Linked DNA regions of Homo sapiens: region 2 is linked to region 1. The links come from fine-mapping of genetic effects on gene expression. Tissue or cell type: cerebellum. Region 1 holds a variant in brackets; the other region holds the start of a gene. All regions are shown on one strand. Distances are between the middles of the regions.

Region 1 (12,900 bases):
TGGAAACTCTAAAACGCAGAGCGCCTCTCCTCCTCCAAAGGAACGCAGTTCCTCACCAGCAACGGAACAAAGCTGGATGGAGAATGACTTTGACGAGCTGAGAGAAGAAGGCTTCAGACGATCAAATTACTCTGAGCTACGGGAGGACATTCAAACCAAAGGCAAAGAGGTTGAAAACTTTGAAAAAAATTTAGAAGAATGTATAACTAGAATAACCAATACAGAGAAGTGCTTAAAGGAGCTGATGGAGCTGAAAACCAAGGCTCGAGAACTACGTGACGAATGCAGAAGCCTCAGGAGCTGATGCGATCAACTGGAAGAAAGGGTATCAGTGATGGAAGATGAAATGAATGAAATGAAGCGAGAAGGGAAGTTTAGAGAAAAAAGAATAAAAAGAAATGAGCAAAGCCTCCAAGAAATATGGGACTATGTGAAAAGACCAAATCTACATCTGATTGGTGTACCTGAAAGTGATGGGGAGAATGGAACCAAGTTGGAAAACACTCTGCAGGATATTATCCAGGAGAACTTCCCCAATCTAGCAAGGCAGGCCAACGTTCAGTTTCAGGAAATACAGAGAACGCCACAAAGATACTCCTCGAGAAGAGCAACTCCAAGACACATAATTGTCAGATTCACCAAAGTTGAAATGAAGGAAAAAAATGTTAAGGGCAGCCAGAGAGAAAGGTCGGATTACCCTCAAAGGGAATCCCATCAAACTAACAGCGGATCTCTCGGGAGAAACCCTACAAGCCAGAAGAGAGTGGGGGCCAATATTCAGCATTCTTAAAGAAAAGAATTTTCAACCCAGAATTTCATATCCAGCCAAACTAAGCTTCATAAATGAGGGAGAAATAAAATACTTTACAGACAAGCAAATGCTGAGAGATTTTGTCACCACCAGGCCTGCCCTACAAGAGCTCCTGAAGGAAGCGCTAAACATGGAAAGGAACAACCGCTGCAAAATCAAGCCAAAATGTAAAGACCATCGAGACTAGGAAGAAACTGCATCAACTAACGAGCAAAATCACCAGCTAACATCATAATGACAGGATCAAATTCACACATAACAATATTAACTTTAAATGTAAATGGACTAAATGCTCCAATTAAAAGACACAGACTGGCAAATTGGATAAAGAGTCAAGACCCATCAGTGTGCTGTATTCAGGAAACCCATCTCAAGTGCAGAGACACACATAGGCTCAAAATAAAAGGATGGAGGAAGATCTACCAAGCAAATGGAAAACAAAAAAAGGCAGGGGTTGCCATCCTAGTCTCTGATAAAACAGACTTTAAACCAACAAAGATCAAAAGAGACAAAGAAGGCCATTACATAATGGTAAAGGGATCAATTCAACAAGAAGAGCTAATTATCCTAAATATATATGCACCCAATACAGGAGCACCCAGATTCATAAAGCAAGTCCTGAGTGACCTACAAAGAGACTTAGACTCCCACACATTAATAATGGGAGACTTTAACACCCCACTGTCAACATTAGACAGATCAACGAGACAGAAAGTCAACAAGGATACCCAGGAATTGAACTCAGCTCTGCACCAAGCAGACCTAATAGACATCTACAGAACTCTCCACCCCAAATCAACAGAATATACATTTTTTTCAGCACCACACCACACCTATTCCAAAATTGACCACATACTTGGAAGTAAAGCTCTCCTCAGCAAATGTAAAAGAACAGAGATTATAACAAACTATCTCTCAGACCACAGTGCAATCAAACTAGAACTCAGGATTAAGAATCTCACTCAAAACCGCTCAACTACATGGAAACTGAACATCCTGCTTCTGAATGACTACTGGATACCTAACAAAATGAAGGCAGAAATAAAGATGTTCTTTGAAACCAATGAGAACAAAGACACAACATACCAGAATCTCTGGGACGCATTCAAAGCAGTGTGTAGAGGGAAATTTATAGCACTAAATGCCCACAAGAGAAAGCAGGAAAGATCCAAAATTGACACCCTAACATCACAATTAAAAGAACTAGAAAAGCAAGAGCAAACACATTCAAAAGCTAGCAGAAGGCAAGAAATAACTAAAATCAGAGCAGAACTGAAGGAAATAGAGACACAAAAAACCCTTCAAAAAATTAATGAATCCAGGAGCTGGTTTTTTGAAAGGATCAACAAAATTGATAGACCACTAGCAAGACTAATAAAGAAAAAAAGATAGAAGAATCAAATAGACACAATAAAAAATGATAAAGGGGATATCACCACCGATCCCACAGAAATACAAACTACCATCAGAGAATGCTACAAACACCTCTACGCAAATAAACTAGAAAATCTAGAAGAAATGGATAAATTCCTCGACACATACACTCTCCCAAGACTAAACCAGGAAGAAGTTGAATCTCTGAATAGACCAATAACAGGATCTGAAATTGTGGCAATAATCAATAGCTTACCAACCAAAAAGAGTCCAGGACCAGACGGATTCACAGCCGAATTCTACCAGAGGTACAAGGAGGAACTGGTACCATTCCTTCTGAAACTATTCCAATCAATAGAAAAAGAGGGAATCCTCCCTAACTCATTTTATGAGGCCAGCATCATCCTGATACCAAAGCCGGGCAGAGACACAACCAAAAAAGAGAATTTTAGACCAATATCCTTGATGAACATTGATGCAAAAATCCTCAATAAAATACTGGCAAAACGAATCCAGCAGCACATCAAAAAGCTTATTCACCATGATCAAGTGGGCTTCATCCCTGGGATGCAAGGCTGGTTCAATATACGCAAATCAATAAATGTAATCCAGCATATAAACAGAGCCAAAGACAAAAACCACATGATTATCTCAATAGATGCAGAAAAAGCCTTTGACAAAATTCAACAACCCTTCATGCTAAAAATTCTCAGTAAATTAAGTATTGATGGGACGTATTTCAAAATAATGAGAGCTATGACAAACCCACAGCCAATATCATACTGAATGGGCAAAAACTGGAAGCATTCCCTTTGAAAACGGGCACAAGACAGGGATGCCCTCTCTCAGCACTCCTATTCAACATAGTGTTGGAGGTTCTGGCCAGGGCAATTAGGCAGGAGAAGGAAATAAAGGGTATTCAATTAGGAAAAGAGGAAGTCAAATTGTCCCTGTTTGCAGATGACATGATTGTATATCTAGAAAACCCCATTGTCTCAGCCCAAAATCTCCTTAAGCTCATAAGCAACTTCAGCAAAGTCTCAAGATACAAAATCAATGTAGAAAAATCACAAGCATTCTTATACACCAACAACAGACAAACAGAGAGCCAAATCGTGAGTGAACTCCCATTCACAATTGCTTCAAAGACAATAAAATACCTAGGAATCCAACTTACAAGGGATGCGAAGGACCTCTTCAAGGAAAACTACAAACCACTGCTCAAGGAAATAAAAGAGGATACAAATGGAAGAACATTCCATGCTCATGGGTAGGAAGAATCAATATCGTGAAAATGGCCATACTGCCCAAGGTAATTTACAGATTCAATGCCATCCCCATCAAGCTACCAATGACTTTCTTCACAGAATTGGAAAAAACTACTTTCAAGTTCATATGGAACCAAAAAAGAGCCTGCATCACCAAGGCAATCCTAAGCCAAAAGAACAAAGCTGGAGGCATCACGCTACCTGACTTCAAACTATACTACAAGGCTACAGTAACCAAAACAGCATGGTACTGGTACCAAAACAGAGATATAGGTCAATGGAACAGAACAGAGCCCTCGAAAATAACGCCGCATATCTACAACTATCTGATCTTGGAGAAACCTGAGAAAAACAAGCAATGGGGAAAGGATTCCCTATTTAATAAATGGTGCTGGGAAAACTGGCTAGCCATATGTAGAAAGCTGAAACTGGATCCCTTCCTTACACCTTATACAAAAATCAATTCAAGATGGATTAAAGATTTAAACGTTAGACCTAAAACCATAAAAACCCTAGAAGAAAACCTAGGCATTACCATTCAGGACATAGGCATGGGCAAGGACTTCATGTCCAAAACACCAAAAGCAATGGCAACAAAAGCCAAAATTGACAAATGGGATCTAATTAAACTAAAGAGCTTCTGCACAGCAAAAGAAACTACCATCAGAGTGAATAGGCAACCTACAGAATGGGAGAAAATTTTCACAACCTACTCATCTGACAAAGGGCTAATATCCAGAATCTACAATGAACTCAAACAAATTTACAAGAAAAAAACAAACAACCCCATCAAAAAGTGGGTGAAGGACATGAACAGACACTTCTCAAAAGAAGACATTTATGCAGCCAAAAAACACATGAAAAAATGCTCGTCATCAGTGGCCATCAGAGAAATGCAAATCAAAACCACAATGAGATACCATCTCACACCAGTTAGAATGGCAATCATTAAAAAGTCAGGAAACAACAGGTGCTGGAGAGGATGTGGAGAAATAGGAACACTTTTACACTGTTGGTGGGACTGTAAACTAGTTCAACCATTGTGGAAGTCAGTGTGGCGATTCCTCAGGGATCTAGAACTAGAAATACCATTTGACCCAGCCATCCCATTACTGGGTATATACCCAAAGGACTATAAATCATGTTGCTATAAAGACACATGCACACGTATGTTTATTGCGGCATTATTCACAATAGCAAAGACTTGGAACCAACCCAAATGTCCAACAATGATAGATTGGATTAAGAAAATGTGGCACATATACACCATGGAATACTATGCAGCCATAAAAAATGATGAGTTCATGTCCTTTGTAGGGACATGGATGAAATTGGAAATCATCATTCTCAGTAAACTATTGCAAGAACAAAAAACCAAACACCACATATTCTCACTCATAGGTGGGAATTGAACAATGAGATCACATGGACACAGGAAGGGGAACATCACACTCTGGGGACTGTGGTGGGGTGGGGGGAGGGGGGAGGGATAGCATTGGGAGATATACCTAATGCTAGATGACGATTTAGTGGGTGCAGCGCACTAGCATGGCATATGTATACATATGTAACTAACCTGCACAATGTGCACATGTACCCTAAAACTTAAAGTATAATAAAAAAATAAAAAAATTAAAAAAAATAAAGTTGACTCAAACTTAAAAAAAAAAAAAATACAGAGGCAGTGTTTTTTAAAAAGTGCATACTAATTCCTGGATTCATGAGATAACTTCCAGGAAGTTGTAGATAGATAAACATTTCAACTTTAATCATTATACGCTTGAATGCAGATTAGAAAAATTAGCATTTTAAGCTTAGCAAACCCATGATTTCAGATATTATTGCTTTAGGATGTCGGTAACAGTTAAAATCTAGTCAGGAGATTAAAAGCCACCCTTATTTTAACAGAGGAAATTAAATATTAAGAATTGTTAATTGGGTATTAAAGAACTAAACGAGGCAAAAGGAAAACACTGAGGTATCATGCAGGAAGCTGCGACTCCTAGGGAAGAGAGGGAAATTGTTCAATTTTTGAAACTTGGGAGGGGCCCCAAAGAGCCAAAACTCAGACCTCTGACATTAAGTTGTTATTCTGCTAATATCAGTGTCTCTGGGTTGGGTGGGGGAACCCTGTGGCCAAGGCGCTGGACAGATGTCGGAATGAATACAGGGTGGTTGGTGCTGGTGATGTCTCTGAGGAGTTGCTATGAGGCTGTTGCAGCAAGTGTTGGGAAGACTAAACTCATATTAACAACTCTTCCTGGAATACCAGCCTCTGCTGGGGTGCAGGTGTTTTGAGGGTGACAAAGAAATAGGAAAAGAAGAGGAAGCAGAGAGAAGGGACACATCCTGTCTTCTTCCTCTAGCCTCGCCATCTCCAGCTGGGCCTCCACTGGCTGATCCTAATTAAGTCAGCTGCATAGGAGACATGGGGTTTGCTCAGTCCCAGCCCGGCACTAAAAGCTGAATACAGAGGGTGAGTTTGATTCTGTGAAGCAACAGCTTTGAATCTGCCACAACCTGCCCTTTCGGCCATTTAGCATCCACAGACTTCTAACCTAAACTTCCTGCAACAAGGAAAACAACTGTTTCTACCGAATACACTGCAAACATCCTTTGTACAAGATACCCTCAGCCTTTCTCCAAAATGAGGAGACACAAAGTCCCAGCAGACATTCTATCAGTTAATTACACCTAAAATTAATCACAAACCCACCTAATATTCTTACCCTACGACTAAATAGCGAAATTAACGCCCTAAGAAAACAAAATAAGGAGGTAAGAGAAGAAATTAGTACACACACATACACACACACACACACACACACACACACGCAGAAGAAAACAGTCATCCCTGGGTATCCAAGGACTGGTTCCAGGACCTCCTGCAGATACCAAAATCCACAGATGCTCAAACCCCTTACCTTAGACAGCATGTTTGCATATAACTTACGTGCATCCTCCTGTATCCCTTAGACTACCTCTAGATGATTTATGATGCCTAATACAATGTCAATGCTATGTAGTTGTCATACTGTATTGTACTTTATATTATTTTTTATTGTATTTTTATTTTTTGAGTACTTTCTGTGGTTAGTCAAGTCGATATCTGGAACTCACTGATATGGAGTGCCAACCCTCCATGTAACAGTTGCAGTAACTTGTTTCTGTAACTGGCTAGTCATAAGGCTGAAATAATAAATTTCCTTCTTTCCTTACACATCCCATGGTTCCTCTTCCCTCAGCCAGTAGCTCAGCTTCTCAGGATTTATACGGGGTGGGGTGTACCAAAACATCATTCCCTAAAGGACCTCAATCATTCCCCTCTTTGAGACTGTTATAGCTGTCCCTTAGAAGTTAGTGGCATACATGGGAAGTGCTAAAAATGCCCTAGAGAATCCTTGGGTTCCAGATGCCTTTCTCACCATCCACTGTGTAGGAACGACATAAATGCCCCTTTGTTGCCAGGATCACTTGCACCAGCCAAAACAGTAACCTCCAGCCCGTTGGTTCAGTGCTGAAATGACTGGATAGTCTCAATTCCTGTCTCAATGGAGCCATTGTTGTGTCCCCTAGCGGGAGCACTCCTCCCTTGGGAACTCAAGAGAAGCAGGAAACAAATCACCCATGAGTGGGACCACTCCATCTACCTCTGCTTGATTCCAGACCGTGCATTCTGACCAAGAACAGTCCCATGGAGTGGTCACTCAATCAAAGCACACGTTACATTTGTCAGATGGAGTTGTATTCCACCTAGGGCCATAAATGTGTCTTCAGCAGACCATTCCATCGTCCTATTATGCCCGCTATTCCTGGGTGATGGGGGATATGCTAAGACCAGTGCACTCAAGAGGCATAAGCCCCCATTACCCCACTTCTTTTATGGTGAAATGAGTTTGTCAATCAGAAGTCGACTGTGCAGACAGGTACATAAGACACGTAGTAAGTCCGGTAGTAAGTCCGTGGATTGTGGTGCTGGTAAGGCACTGGGAAGAACTCGTTACTTCCCAGAGTTGGGAGGTGCATCATTCTCATACTCACAGTGAAAAAAAAAAAAAAGGCCAGATTAACTTCAAAGTCCT[A/G]TCTTTTCTCATAACTCACCAGAGAACTGAGGTCACAGAGCAATAAAACCTTCCTTACAGAGATTTGAGGAGAGAGGAGACATGTACCTCATTCACTTCCTGGGAGCGAAATTAAATCAGTAGTTCTCAGAAGTCCTAGGTACTTATCTGCAGACAGAAAGACAGACACACATACACACACTTAATTCTATGTGCTTCTTTCTGTACTTAGCATTTAGAATAGAGTTCAGACTAGGAGATGGTACCATTGGTCAGTGGTAAATTCTGTTGGGTTATACCGTAAGAAACTAAAGGTTATTTTTGACCTGTAAAAGGCAATTTCTTATGGTTCAACCTAATACATCACTATATTCTGATCAATGGCTGTTTTTTAAAGTTATTATTTGGAAAAAAGTTATATTACTGAATTAGACTAAAATTGTTATTTGAAAGTACAAGAAAATATAAAAAGTATGTGAAAGTAGATTTTTATTACAGAGCAAATTTTTCTATCAATTCAATGCTTTAAATAAAACAACATAATACCATAAACTGACAATGACCTGGGAGCATGTAAATACTTAAGGCTGGAGAGGCATTTTTATTCTTGATAAATTTATATAATAAATTCTTATGACATTTGATTCCAAATTGTATGTACGAATTGGCTTGACATAATAAATATAAACATAAGGGCAATTTAAACATTGGCAGTAGTTTATGTAAGTCAATTCAAGGTCAGTGACTGGAGAACTATATTAAGAGAAACCTGAGGTAAAAAAAATCTTTAGGAAGCAGCCCTGTAACAATGTACATTTGTAGATCAGGGGCTAAAAATCCACTCTGAATGAATACCAAGAAGCAAAGGATGTACAACATCCATCACACATCTGTTTCAAAAACAGCATGTTTCTAAAATGATAATCTCTTTACAAGTAAACGTTACAGTATTAATAACTATAGAGACACCATTGGGATGAGCTCCAGATGCCCTGCTGACTTCCACCAAGCACCCCTGGGCCATCGCTTAAGGCATCCATCTTAATCCTGGGGCTTTAAGAACATCTTCTTTGCTTTAATTGGTGTTATGTCTCCATTTTCATCTTCTTCATAATTGGCATGGTCTCTCTTTCTGGCAAACTTTTTCCCAATTGTCCCCACCAAGGTCTCATATCTGTCAAGAGGACAGGCAGCACACGTTTAATTTCAAATAAAAAGGTAGGGATCAAGCCTTGTCAAGAATATCAGACCAAATATGCAATAAAAAAGATTACGAAAAAGAAAACTATCATTAAAAGAAACCATCTGATTTAACAATTTATGAACTTCTCTAAGAGTGATTAAATTCCTTGCCATTTTGGTGTTTGCATTACCCTAAATAAATAGAGATGTACATTTTAAAATACACATTTCCAGCAGCTCTGGAAATGGGCCCTCAACTGGCAGCCTGAGACAGGTCTGTGGCCCCCGTAGGCCATTAAGAGAAGGCCGATCACAGTCATCGTCCTACTGGGGGACTCCCTTGAAAGCTGCCGTGCACTGTGGGGTAAGAGGAGCATTCCTGGGAGAGCCAATGAATGCTAGGTCCAGATTAGAAGGCTGCTGCGCAGCACGGTTACCTTCTAGCCATCTCTTCATCTGACACATCAAGCTCTACTGTTTCATCTTCAACTTCTTCTGCTTTGTGCTTAGCATTCATCTGAAGCATCAATTTCTGAAAAATACACCAGTGCTGACCTTCAGGCTAGAAAACGCTTGTGAAAGGAACTGATGTCAAACTTACCTGAAGGCAGAGAAACTGAAGTCAAATAATCTAGAGAACTAGTCAAAATTGATAAGGGACTCTCTGTAATACTTGATACCACAATGGTGTAAGAGAAGTAAGCTCTGAGTCAAAAAAATAGTAAGGCAAAGCCCCACTGAATTATACTTAGGGTGAATTTAAAGTGTATTTAAGATCATAAATCTTAGTATTAGTTACTCATATTTAAAGCAGGCATACTGCTGACACATTCCGGTGAGTGGGGGAAGAAATAATAAACTTTCAGATTTTCCCTGAACTTCCCCCACCCATCTTTAAGCCATATGGAAGAAACACTAGTCGTCAGTAATAATTTTAAATGCATCTCTTGGTGGTGGTGGTGGTGAGTGGAGGAGGTGGGAGAAGTGGAAGGCTGGCCCTGTTTAATGGAGGGAATCTGCACCTCAGCCTTACCCTCCTAAACTTTAGAGTGGATAATGCATCCCATGTAACATCCATGCACCACAGGGTCTCTCCTCCAACTCTTTCACATAAACCTTTTTGTGATAATTATCCTCTGACCTTTTTTTTTTTAAATGTGTAATCTCTTCTTTTTAGCAAGAGGAGAAGGAATAAAAGATGAGAAATCAGTCTTAACTAGTTTTTCTAAGGCTTAAAAGAGTGATAATAGTTTAAAACCTTTTCCTAGGGGGAGTGTATTCAGTGTTTCAGAATCCAGTAATTAGGGCCATTTTCTAACACCCGTCCCTGCCCCCCATCAATTTCTGCGGGCAGTGGCACCTCTCCTTTCCCATTGCAGCAGACATACTTTGGAATGCTCGCCTATCCAAACCCTACTCTTTGAATACCACATCTTCATAATCCCTGCCTTTTTCTTCCCTCTTCACCCCACTGCCCAGCCCCTCTCCTTCTCAATCTGAAGCTTAATTAAAGAAAGTCAAAGCGAGACCAGCATATATTAAAAACAAACACTTCTAACATAACACCTTAATTATCACACATGCCTCCTCCCACTCCGCCAAAAAAGAAAAGGAAAACTAACCTAGAATCTTTCAATAAACTCTGGCAATTGGCTTAGTTAACTGTGGCTCCTAGAGAAGTGGTTCTTAACTGGGGATGATTTTCCCCACCAGGGAACCTGTGAAAATGTCTGGAAACATTTTTGGTTGTCACAGCTGGGTAGGAGGGTGGGGTGTGTGTGTGCTACTGATATTTAGTTGGTAGAGAACAGAGGACAGGGATGTGGTTCGTCATTCTCTTAGGAAAGCCACCACCACAAAGAATTATCTGGCCCCAAATGTTAACACTGCCAAGGGCAAGAAACACTGGCTTCAAGTAATATTTACCAAACTAAAGATTTATATCTCATGTGTCCATTTGGTTCATCAAGTACTTGATAGGATGGCTTTTAACATATGAGCCAGAGTTCTAATGAATATTTGTTAAATAAAGGTCTGCTTCTCTATCCTGGAGCAGGAAAATTCAAATGAATAGCTCAGTTATAAGGCAAATATTCATTTTTCAAACAAACTGTCGAAAGGATTCATTTAAAAATCTACTTACAAGCTTGGATTACAACAGTCCATTAAAAAGTCAAATGACATAATTCTAAAGTAACATTTTTCCGTTAGAAAAAATACATGTATAGGTGCCAGAAAATAACTTTTCATAATAGCATGATATGAATAAAATCTTGACGTTCCTGTAAAAGACACAACTTGAAATTTTAATATTTATGGTGGCTCTGTCAAGGGCTGTATACTGCTATATGAAATTATCTACTCACCTCTACCATAAAACTAGACTGCAATGCCTCCAATTTCTTTAAATAGCTATGGCGATATTTCAAGACTTGTTATTTTCTATATAATGAGTAGAAATGGTACCTGGTGGAGAAACACCTAAGCCCAATTATTAGCAGAAAAAAATTCAATTGGAAAAATTTTTAATTTGAAGCAATTATATTTAATACCTCAACCTCAGGATTAAATCCTCTGAATGACATTCTTCCATAGAGAAGATCTTCACATAGTAAGAAACTCTGCTCTTCTATTATGAAACTCCTAAATGGGAAAATAAAAATAGCATTTCTCCATATATAAAGCACAGCAAACAAAAGCCAACACTTTGAATAAAAAAAATAATCAACCTATGGTTCTCAGTAGAATGAAGTAAAAATACAGTAAGATTTCTAACTTAGGGTTAAAAATAAAATCTGATTAATTTGGTCAGCAAAGGCATTAGGAGACAAGAGCAGCAAGCTAGAGGCACAGCCTCTCTTAAACACCACATTTAATTTGCATAAATATCTACATAATATAAAGATCTAAAGTATTGACAATAAACTTGAATTTGCCAAAGTTGAAGCAAAGTTTCTTTTGTGTTTACATCCCCTCACCATATTTTTTTCCAATTCTTTTTCAGAAAGGAAATAATATGTATGTAAAAATACACATACAGTATACAGTGACACACTACTCCAAATCATTTTAATAAAGTTTCTGGCATATTTTGTCTTTCGTTCTCAGGGATTTCAAAAATTCCATTCTCTAATTATCAAAGCAGCACATTTTAAGGAACGTAATTTGGAAAGCAGAATAAAGTATGAGTTTATAAACTGCCTGTAAGCTCCTTACCAAGAGGATAAAAAGGACTGTTAGTATATTTGAATATTTCCTTCCAGTCTTTTTTGTACTTGCATTTACGTTGATTCTTGAACACAGGTCTGAGCTGTGTGGTGCACTTATACACAGATTTTTTTCAAAAAATTTCAATAGTTTTTGGGGAACAGGTGGTTTTTTGGTTACATGGATAAGTTCTTTAGTGGTGACTTCTGAGATTTTGGCCCCCACCAAATTCTTATTACAAATCCAGGAGAAGTAGTGGGAAATCAGAGGCTTGAGCAGCTTTAACAGTGTTATCAGTCAGAGCTCTTAGCTATAAACACCAAAGGCTGACCCTGGATGACTTCAGCAGAGAAGGAATTTACTGTAAGAACACTGTAGGCTCTTCATTTCCAAGGGGGACTGGTTCCAGGACCCCTTGTAGATATCAAAATCTGTGACACAAAGAGCCAGCTGTACTGGGCATCTCAGAATCACCGGGAAGGCTGAAGGGGCAGAATTGGAAGACGGGCAGAAATAACGGTCGCTAGGTGGTTGCACCAGAACCAAAATCATGCTAGAGAATGACCCTAGGAAAACCACTGTTGCTGCTGACGGGGCTGAGCACGACACCACTGATGGCATTGGGGCAGGTTGCGTTCCCTGGACCAGGATGTTTCTGTCTGCAGCAGAATTTCTCTGCTGAGTCACCACCACATGACCGTAAATCCAAGGTGACATATCTATCTCCAGCCTGGCCATAAACCCTAAAGCATGGCAGGAAAGCAAACATGTGGCTTTTAAGGCTTGTTTGCCGGAGTAGGCTCTGATTCTCATAAAGATTCCCTTATGCAACAAACACTTATTAAACCAAACTGTGTGTATTAAATCAAACTGCGGAAACAGCCACCAGTAAAAGAGCCTCAGCTGGGCACAGTGGCGGATGCCTGTAGTCCCAGTTACTCAGGTGGCTGAGGCAGGAGAACTGCTCGCATCCCAGAAGTGGAAGTTGCAATGAGTC
Region 2 (10,231 bases), 22 kb after region 1:
CTCCCTCCTCACCAACATCTTGCTTCCTCTGAGAAGCAGAGAAAAAAAGTACCTTCTCCCGATCCCTCCTGGTGGGACATACTTTCTATCTTTAGAGAAGGGTATCTAACCTTCAAACAATGTCCAGAGGTCAGCCAAATGAACAGGGGAATATAACATTCCAAATCAAAGCCCAAACATCAGGTACAGAATGGAAACACATAAATGTGCCTCAAGACAGTAAGCAGCATCTTCAGTCATTTGACCAAAGTTTAAGTAAAACTACCATACAACAGAGCTTACTAAGGTGAGGAAAGTATCAGGGAAAAATGAAAAATAGCTTCCAGAAGGATTCAGCTAAATTAATGGATGAAATAAATCCAACACTCCTTCATTCAAAATTGTTGATCAGGCACCAGCCAAGCTTAGGGGTGGGCCAGAAACTGTCTACCCCAGCCTTCAGCACTGACTAGCTGGGTGAAGCTGGGCAAGTTACCCTCCCTTAAGCTCAGTTCCTCAACTACAAAGTGACAGAATCATAGGAGGCAGTTCCTAAGTTTGCTACGAAGATTCAATAACTACAGATGTAAAGTGTTTAGCCCAGTTCCTGGTACACACTATAGATTCAGTAAATGTTAGCTAAAATGGATGGTATTACAAGTAGTAACAATTTAAAAGAAGAAACAAAAACTTCTGACCTGCCTTAAAATGCTCAACCTAATGAACTCTGTAACCGAAACAAAACTGGAGAGACCTGAAGTACACCCCTAATCTTTAGAACTTAAGGTGATAGAGAGAACATTACAGCTTCCCCAAAGGTCTGCTGTTACTATCAGAGATATGTGGGCTAGGTTCCTTCATTCAATGTAAAAAAGGACAAAATAGTGGCTGGGAGGGGGAGTAGTAAAAATGTATAAATCCATGTACAACTTCTATAGGTTTAATATTTTTTAGTTGTGCTACTAAATCAATAAACTGAACAGAAACAATTTCATGGGCTTTATGTCACCGGAATGATGAGTTAAATTTACCAGGAGTTTCCTTCTGAATGCCACAAGCATCATCAGTATCAATTTTAATAAACCTACTCTTTCTCTTTAAGCTCTGGCAAATCCAAGTACCAGTGCTCTTCACTAATGATTTTCTTTTCTTCTTCTTCTAGTTGTTTCTTGGTTTCTGAGTCCAGTCCCCTTTGCATAAACTGTGAAAACAAACAAAATCAATGTCAGAAACTTTTCCCATTTTAGAACTGAGGAAACCCCAAATAATTTTCTTCTTCTACTTGTTCTCCTTCATTTATCTATGGAACCCATCTCAAGATTGAGGGTTGGGGCAAGTGATCAAACGGTTTAGCTCTACCCTTCCAACTTTACACTAGACGATGAGGGCTTGTGTCAGGGCATGAGAAAATGCACAATGTATATTTCCTTCGGAAAACTTAAGGGCTAAGACACCACATTCGAAGGTCTTGTGCTCACCCACAGAGCCCACTGGCTTTGGCACCTGCTGATCTGGGGTTGAAATGCCCTTCTTATCCTCTTCCACCTGGCCAACTCCTCGCCCGTCTGACATAGGTAAAGCTACTAGACTTCTATGAGTGCCAGTAAAATCAGTGCCTCTGTCCTAAATGCTTCCATGGCTCCCTCCAATAGACTCACCACATCTGAACTTTCTGAGCATCTATCTTTTCTGGAGACCTTAAGGACTGGGTGTCTGGGTCATCTCCTTCATCTGTCCCAATATGATGACTGAAGCACAGTAAGAGCCCGATAAATGTAGGCAGAAGCAAAGGTACATCTATAAGTCTGCTCTTCGTTTTTATTTTTCCTCTGAAATGCTGCTAAACTCTTGAGCTGCTCTTATCAAATCTGCAGAAAGTTGACTCAAAATATGGCAGTAAATAACAGTCCTGCTGCCAGTCTCTCACTAGCATGAATACCTGTATTTCTTCAGGGAACAAGTGAACAAACTTAAGAGGCTAACCACAGCAACAAGATAAAATATCAACACTGGAGAAAATAAAATCAGAAAATACCCAGAAGCCTCCTAGCAGTTAGGTTTCAGCTTCCACTGGTTTCTATGTATCCCCCATTTCTTTCCCTTATTCAGGTCCGATATTTCTTTTTTATTTTTTTTTTTATTTTTTTTTTTTGAGACAGAGTCTCACTCTGTCGCCCAGGCTGGAGTGTAGTGGCACGATCTCAGCTCACTGCAACCTCTGCCTCCTAGGTTCAAGAGGTTCTCCTGCCTCAGCTTCTCGAGTAGCTGAGATTACGCGCCTGCCACCACACCCAGCTAATTTTTCTGTTTTTAGTAGAGACGGGGGTTCACCACTTTGGCCAGGCTGGTCTCAAACTCCTGACTTTGTGATCCACCCGCCTCGGCCTCCCAAAGTGCTGGGATTACAGGTGTGAGCCGCTGCGCCCGGCCCAGGTCCCATATTTCTCCTCCTTCTATTCCACCTTTTCCAAACATAAGCCTTTTTAGGCATAAGCACTTTAACAATGACTACTAAGTTAAATGAAAAAACCTTAACGTTCACGAATAAAATAGTCATGCACTGCAAAATGATGTTTGGTCGACGATGGAACCCATATATGACAGTGGTCCCATAAGATTACAATGCTGCATTTTTATTGTACCTTTTCTATATCTAGATATGTTTAGATACACAGACACCACTGTGTTACAACTGCCTACAGTATTCAGTACAGTAGCATGCTGTATAGGTTTGCAGCCTACGAACAACAGGCTGTACCATATAGCCTAAGTGTGTGGTAGGCTATACCATCCAGGTTTGCGTAGATGAACCCTATGATGCTCTCACAATGATGAAATCACCTAACAATGCATGTTTCAGAACGTATCCCTGTTGTTAAATCATGTGTTAAGTAACACATGATGGTGATAACATCAAGTGCTGAAGAGAATGTGAAGAAACTGATCACTCAAACATAGCTGGTGGGAAAGTAAATGGTACAGCCACTGTGGAAAACAGCATGGCAGTTTCTTAGCAAACTAAACATACACTTACCATATGACCCAGCAACCGTCCACGCAAAATGAGTGCGTGTAAAATGGTGAAATCTGCGTCAGCTCACTGTCAATGTCCTGGCTCTTTATCATATCCTAGTGTTGTAAAATGTTGCCGCTAGGGGAGGTGGCATGAAGGACGCACGGGATATCCCTGTACACTTTTTGCAACTTCCTGTGAATCTATCACTATTTTAAGTAAAAAGTAAAAGAAAACAAGTTTGCAGACTAGTGTTTTGCAGTCGTCATCCATTTTACCTGTGTGTACATCCTCATCCCAGGAAAGAACTGCAGTTTCTGGAATGTGCACGCTATACTTCCCAGTCCTTTTGCCTTTGCGACTTAACACGTTTCCATTTTCTGCCTGGCAAAATATTTACTCTTTTAAGCCTACAGTGTGTGTCCTTTGGTAAGACTTCCTGGTTGGCATTTGGCTTGGCTCTTCCTAGGTCTGCTCCTATAAAGAAGCACATTCTCAAGACAGCCTCATCAACACTGGAATATTGTTCACCATCGTGCTGCTTTGGTGTCTCCCAGGACTACGATTCTGAATAGACCATGACTCTTGTTCATCTTGTATCATTGGTACTTAGGCGGCACCCCTGGTACACAAAAGAGCTCACTCAGTGAAAGTTCTCTGAATGGAAATGAACCTAGACCTATCTTATTTTTCCAGATTCTCTTTCTGGGATGGTTTTCTTTAAATGCAGATGCCTCATTTCATCACTAATATTCCTCGTGGTAAAACTCATCAATACTGCCCAACTGCCCTTTTTTCTCCCATTTAGTCATGTACCTATTCTTTTGGTATACAACAGCCATATACATATGTTCTGTACACATAGAAAGGACAGAACTCCCTGTGAATATGAATCAAGCACCTCCAGACTTAGGTACAAGTTCGATTCTCCTACTCTAGAGCATTTCAGAACACATTCCAAAACTAGTGAGGACTCAGAGCAGGCATCAGCATAATACAGTCCTCAGGCTAGATGTCTGTTGTCGTCGATAAAGTTTTACTGGTACACAACCATGGTCATTCGGTCTTGAACAACACTGGCAGAGCTGAGTAGTTGTAACAGAGACTGTCTGGCTCATAAGACCAAAATATTTATCATATGGTCCTTTACAGAAAGTTTGCCAAGCCCTGTTCTGAGAGTCTAACAGTGCCAAAATCACAAATAAGCACCCTCTACAACCATTCCATACTGGAAGACCTTCCATCCACATCCTTCTTTTTCTTCTTCCCATTAGGATCACCCTGCAATGGCTGACCAAGTCAGAGGCATTGAAGTGAGTCAGGATTAAATCCTCAACCCTCTTATACTTGCCTAAAAAGTGGTCCCCAACCTTTTTGGCACCAGGGATGGGCTTCCTGGAAGACAATTTTTCCACGGGTGGTGGAGAGGGGAAGGGTAGATGGTTTAGGGATGATTCAAGTGCATTACATTTATTGTGCACTTTGTTTCTATTATTATATTATAATATGTCATGAAATAATTATACAACTCACCACAATGAAGAATCAGTGGAAGACCTGAGCTTGTTTTCCTGAAACTAGACAGTCCCATCTGGGTGTGATGGGAGACAATGACAGATCATCAGGCATTAGATTCTCGTAAGTAGAGCGCAAGGTAGATCCCTCATATGCACAGTTCACAGTAGGGTTTCTGATCCTAGGAGAATCTAGGATTCTGCCACTGATCTGACAGGAGGCGGAGCTCAGGTGGTAATGCAAGCTATGGGGAACAGCTGTAAATACAGATGAAGTTTCGCTCGCTTGCCTGCCCGCTGCTCACTTCCTGCTGTGCAGCCTGTTCCTTACAGGTCATGGACTGGTGCTGGTCCATGGCCTGGCGGTTGGGGACCCATGCTATATAGGACTTAGCTCTGGTTAAGGCACCCTAAGTGCAGCTACTCCATGCCTTCTCACAGTATACTCTGTTCTATCAGTATAGACAGTGTCTCCTGCTATCTTGCCAGTAAGTTTTTTCTTATCAATGACCAAAGCTGCTAAACCAAATAGAGAATGTGGGTGATCTTTTTCCTTCTCCTTTGCTTCCAACGTCCAGTTGAGTCTCCCCATTTGGTGGGGGTGGACATTTAAGTTAATTTCTTTCTTCTTAGTTGCAACTCGGATATTTAGTTTGAGCCTGAGTCACCCAGTACATCATCTGGCTTATTCCAAGAGCTAAAACAACTGCTAAAATCTTTCCAATATCTGCTTGGCCAATTCACTCCACTTCTCTGAAGTTAATGTTATTACCAACCATAAAATCAAACTCTGTTCAGTAAAGATTCAAATTTTGCTAATATGCATGAAAGTGCTTGACAAACTCTAAGTTATGCTGCAATTTGTCCTCCACCCTCATTCACCCATTCATCCCTAACTCCATCCTAGCTCAACTCCATTCAAATCTTGCCCATATAATGTTTACTCTCTCTCTTTTTTTTTTTTTTTTGAGACAGGGTCTCCCTGTGTCACCAAGGCTGGAGTGCAGTGGCGCCATCTCAGCTCACTGCAGCCTTGATCTCCCAAGCTCAAGTGATCCTCCCACCTCAGCCTCCCAAGTAGCTGGGACTAAAGGTGCGTGCCACTAGGCCTGGCTAATATTTTGTATTTTTTGTAGAGATGGGGTTTCACCATGTTGCCCAGGATGGTCTCAAACACCTGGGCTTAAGCGATTTGTCTACCTCAGCCTCTCAAAGTGCTGGGACTACAGGCATGAGCCACTGCGAATGGCCTATCTTTCAAAACATTATGAATGCTTCCTTCCCTCTTTTGGAAATTCCACCTCTTTAAACATGACATGTAACAGTTTGCTACTCTCTAGAAGTAGTGCTTAGTGACAGGCATCACAGAGTACAGAGTAGTAATAAAGAGCCAGGGTTCTGGAGCCAGACTGCCTGAATTCCCGTCCTGTCTACACTACTTATTAGCTGTGTAACTTTGGGTAAATTACTTATTTCTGTTTCAGTTGCCTTAGCTGTAAGAAGAGAGTTACTGCCTGTAGTCACCTCAAAGTGTCATTATGTGAATTGCATAGGTTAATATACGCAAACCACTTCAATCATTGTCTAGTACTATAAATATTTGCCATTTTCTTGATACTGTTCCCCGTTTCAATAGCTTTCCATTGCTCACAAAATAAAGGAAAATATCTTTAATCTGGCCTCAAATTCCCTGCACGTTGTGACCATTGCCTACTCTGCAACCCCATTTCTTAGTACTTGCCTTCCAGACATACTGAATTGTCTCTAATTCTTGGAAATTTCCATGGTTTTCTTTTTCTTTCTTGCCTCTCAGACTTCTGAACTCAGTTTCTCCTAGTTTAGGACGCTGTGCCTTCCACCCTCCCAGTAACCTAGAGACTACCCTGCGAGACTCACCCTCTTCTCCCTGGAAGAAGAGGGAGTTCTGCCAGCAGACTGTCTTTGGACTTGGACTGAGTACTTCTCTGGGTCTCCAGCCTACTGGCCCACCCTGCAGATTTTAGACTTGCATCTCCACAGTCGTGTGATCCAGTTTTAAAAATACCCCCTCTCTCCATACACATATATACACATATACATCTTGTTGATTCTGTTTCTCTGAAGAACTCTACTAAAAGAAGTATTATCAAAATTAAAAAGGAGCTTGAACTCATGTAGCCTAATGCTCTTCTTTTTAAAGATGAGGAAAAGAGATATTCAGAGAAAGAAGTGAATTTACCTAAATTACCCAGCTAAGGAGTTACACTTCCCATATATCATATTTATTGCATATATAAGTAAGCAACAACTTCTCGAGAAGCTCGGTGAGTCCCCAAGGTCCCCAGCGCTTCTACCCTCACTGCACTGGGTAAGCTGTACCCTGACTGCTTCTGTGTACTCAAGCTCCCATCCGCCCGCGGGCCTCCTGAGAGAGTCGGCCTAATTCGTAAGCTGGTTCCCAGTAAACAGTGCAGAGCAGGCGCTAAGTGAATGAATGAGCACGAGAGCTGGAAGCCCTCTGAGGCCTCTCTGGTGTCCCTTGTCCGCCCGCCGCCTCGGCCCCGGCCAGGTTGGAAGGACCGGGTGCCCCTACCGCCCGGAGTGGCGCTCTCAGCGTCCCCGCACCTTCATGCGCAGTAGATTCTTGGACAACCTTGTCTTTCGCTCGGCCGCCATGGTAGCTTCCGCCCAGCGCCGCACTCCGGCCGCGAGCCTCACCGCACATGCGCGGAGCCGCGTGCGCAGCTGCGTCCCTCGCGTAGTGCGCGCCGCCCCGCCCCGCCCCTCCCCTGTGTCTTGCGCGCGGGCGCGGCCACTCAGCGGGCGCTCTGCTGACTGAGAGGCTCGGGTAAGCTCGCGGGGTGGCGGGCGCGGGGATGAGCGCGGCAGACCGCAAAAAAGCCGAAGTCAGAGGACGACCCAGAACTTGGCTTCCCCGAGCCGCGGGTCGCCTTCCCGGGACGTCGGCCTGGCCCCCTCGGAGGCCCATCCTCCCTCGGGGACTCCCTTCCTCAGGGACCCCCTCCACACTCAGTAGTCCTCGCCAGCCTCAGAGAGGTTTCCGCCACGCCTGCCACCCGCCTGGGCCGTGTTACCCACGTGTTTTGTCTTCATAACGTGGGTGGCGGGCTCCCTTTGTTCTGGGTCGCTTTGCAGGGTCCAGGTCGTTTTCTCTTCACCAGGACCCCACGAGTTGCTGCTTTCCTCACAGCAGCCCGGAGTCCCGGGGGAGCGCGGCGGGGGCCGCCCCAGGCAGGCTGGCTTCATTCCCAGGCTGCTGCCGATGCGTGTCTGGCCGAGTGATCTCTGCTAAACAGAAGAATCTCAAGAAATGGCAAGGGATGGAGGCAGGGATGGGTGCCAAAGACACATGAATGAGAACAAAGCCTGGTTTTGATCCAAAGAATTGAAAAGACCATAGCGAGGGGCAACATAGGGAGACCCCACCTCTACAAAAAAAAAAAAAAAAAAAAAAAAAAAAAAAATATATATATATATATATATATATATACACAAAAAATATACAAAATATACATACAAAAAATATATACAAAATATACAAAAAATGTACAAAAGATACAACAAAAATAGCTGGGTGTGGTGGCACGGATCTGTGGTCTCCACTACTTGGGAGGCTGAGGCTGGAGAATCACTGGAACCCGGGACGTCGAGGCTGCAGTGAGCTGACATCCCGCCACTGGACTCCAGTCTGGGCTACAGAGTGAGGCTTTGTCTCAAAAACAAAACAACAAAACAAAAAAGAATTTAAAAAACCACTGAAAATAGGGTAGCGTTCCTACCCTGGTGTTTAATGCTCTGGGTACCACCTAAACACGTTTTCGAAAACCATTCCCAGGTCCGACGCTTTGGAACACCCTCAAGCTAATAGCATCTCGGCTGATACCATGAGTTCTACGTCAGATTGTTGACCTGGTCACCTTAGGGCTAATTAGTTCACTTAATCCCCATAAGAACCGGAAAGAAGGTATTGTCATCGTGTTGTTAAGGATTCTGAGACACAGAGTGGGTAACGCACTTGGTGTTCACACAGCTAATCCATGTTAGAGCTGAAATTCAAACACCGATTTGGATGTTAAAAGCCCTTTAGGTTTTCCCAGGGGTAAATAAAATCATTGTAATGTACCAAGTGGCTACAGAATCTCATTCACTTGTGACTGTGTGTGAGATGCCGGGGGTATAATAGCGTGTAAAAACACATATCCCCACCTTTCCTGAAGCTGATATTCTGGACGTAAGTAAGTGGCGACTGCTATGAAAGAGAGAAAACAGTGATGTGACAGAGTAACGCTTAGGGTTACTTTAGACCAGGTGGTTTGGAACGGCCCTTGTCAGATGATGGTGCTAAGGCTTGAAAGTTGAGAAAAACGTGTTTTATGAAGAGTTGGAGGTAGAGTGTGCTCAGAAGACAGCATCAACTGTAAAGGTCCTCAGATATGAACAAGACAAAGTCCGTGTTAAAAGTTTTACAAGTGGAAACAGTAGAGGTTAATCATAAGCCACATTGCATCCCCCAAAATTCATATGTTGAAGTTCCAACTCCCAGTGCCTCAGAATGTGAATGTATTTGGAGACAGTCCTTTTTAAAGAGGTGATTAAAACAAGACCCTTAGGGTGAGCCCTAATCCAGTCTGACTGATGTCGTCATAAGAAGAGGAAATTTGGACACAGACACCAAGGTTGTGTTTGCATAAAGGAAAGACTATCTGAAAGCCAAAAAAATAAAAAAAATTTAAAAAATCTCTCAGGAGAAACCAAACCTGCCAACACCTTGATCTTAGACCTCTAGCCTCCAGCACTGTGAGAAAATCACAACCAGTCTGTATAGGGCACCCAGTGTGTAGTGTTTTCTTATAGTAACCGTAGCAGACTAATATACCATACAATTAGCTGTAGATGACAGTTGTGATGAGAGCCCGGTAAGGAAAGTTTGAGGGTCATGAAAGGGTACAACGAGGGTACCTAAACCATTCTGGCCTGGAAATGAGGACTCTCCTAAACGTAGAGAGGAGTTAATCAGGGAAAAGGCCCACCAATCATTCACATTGTTATGCTGCTTTTACCACCATAGGACTCTTCATCTTGCAAAATGAAAACTCTTGTTCCCATTAAACACTAATTCCTCAGGTCCTCACGACTACTTTCTGTCTCTATAAGTTTGGTTTTTCTGTGGGATTCTCAAAGAACTGCTGTGAGAGTAGAGGTGAAGGGAGAAGTGACTCAGTCTGCCTTCTGCACTTGGGAAACTAAGGGGCGACTGAACTAGGATGAACACATGTCTTGTCAGCTTCAGAAGAGGAAAACAGCATTCCCGGCGAAATAAGAGCATATATCTATCATGTAAGGATGCTGGAAGCGCCACACCTTCTCTATGGACCCCTGTTGTACCAGTCTGTGTTCTGATTTGTTTTTCTGAAACATTGACATTATTATGTTATTCTTTCACTCTAAAATTTACAATATCTGTTATTGTCTGAGAGATAAAGCTCACCTTCTTCAACCTGCCACTCAAAATTCTATTTTTCTATTTGATGGTGAAAATCCTTATAATTAAAATGAATCCCCCAAGTCTTTTCCCACCCCTCAACATGTTATAAATGAGAAGTGATTTAAGAGTAATAGTGTAATTTTAACTTTGAAAACTACCTGACAAGATAATTCCTTGATCTTTCTATGCACCTGAATTGCAGAGCACAGAGGATAGATCTCACAATCAATAATGTGTTAA

Evidence for each region. PIP is the estimated chance that this variant, and not a neighbour inherited with it, causes the effect.
Region 2: it holds the start of MPHOSPH6, and the variant in region 1 is fine-mapped to the expression of MPHOSPH6 in cerebellum (GTEx, PIP above 0.99).

Annotation. Positions count from the first base shown.
Region 1 is chr16:82,140,176-82,153,075 of GRCh38, forward strand. MPHOSPH6 (M-phase phosphoprotein 6) reads right to left here. Exons shown (of 5, transcript NM_005792.2): 3 at 11,249-11,339; 4 at 9,134-9,228; 5 at 7,987-8,688. The coding sequence ends at 8,556. Among named protein-coding and RNA genes, the nearest start is that of MPHOSPH6, 24 kb to the right of the region's middle. RefSeq lists enhancers at 11,468-11,612, 12,409-12,703 and a cis regulatory region at 11,540. The variant A/G (reference allele first, on the strand shown) is at 7,536.
Region 2 is chr16:82,163,015-82,173,245 of GRCh38, forward strand. MPHOSPH6 (M-phase phosphoprotein 6) reads right to left here and starts at 7,210. Exons shown (of 5, transcript NM_005792.2): 1 at 7,111-7,210; 2 at 1,068-1,180. The coding sequence starts at 7,161. RefSeq lists enhancers at 117-261, 2,770-2,914, 2,907-3,051, 7,067-7,211, cis regulatory regions at 189, 2,842, 2,979, 7,139 and a silencer at 7,186-7,345.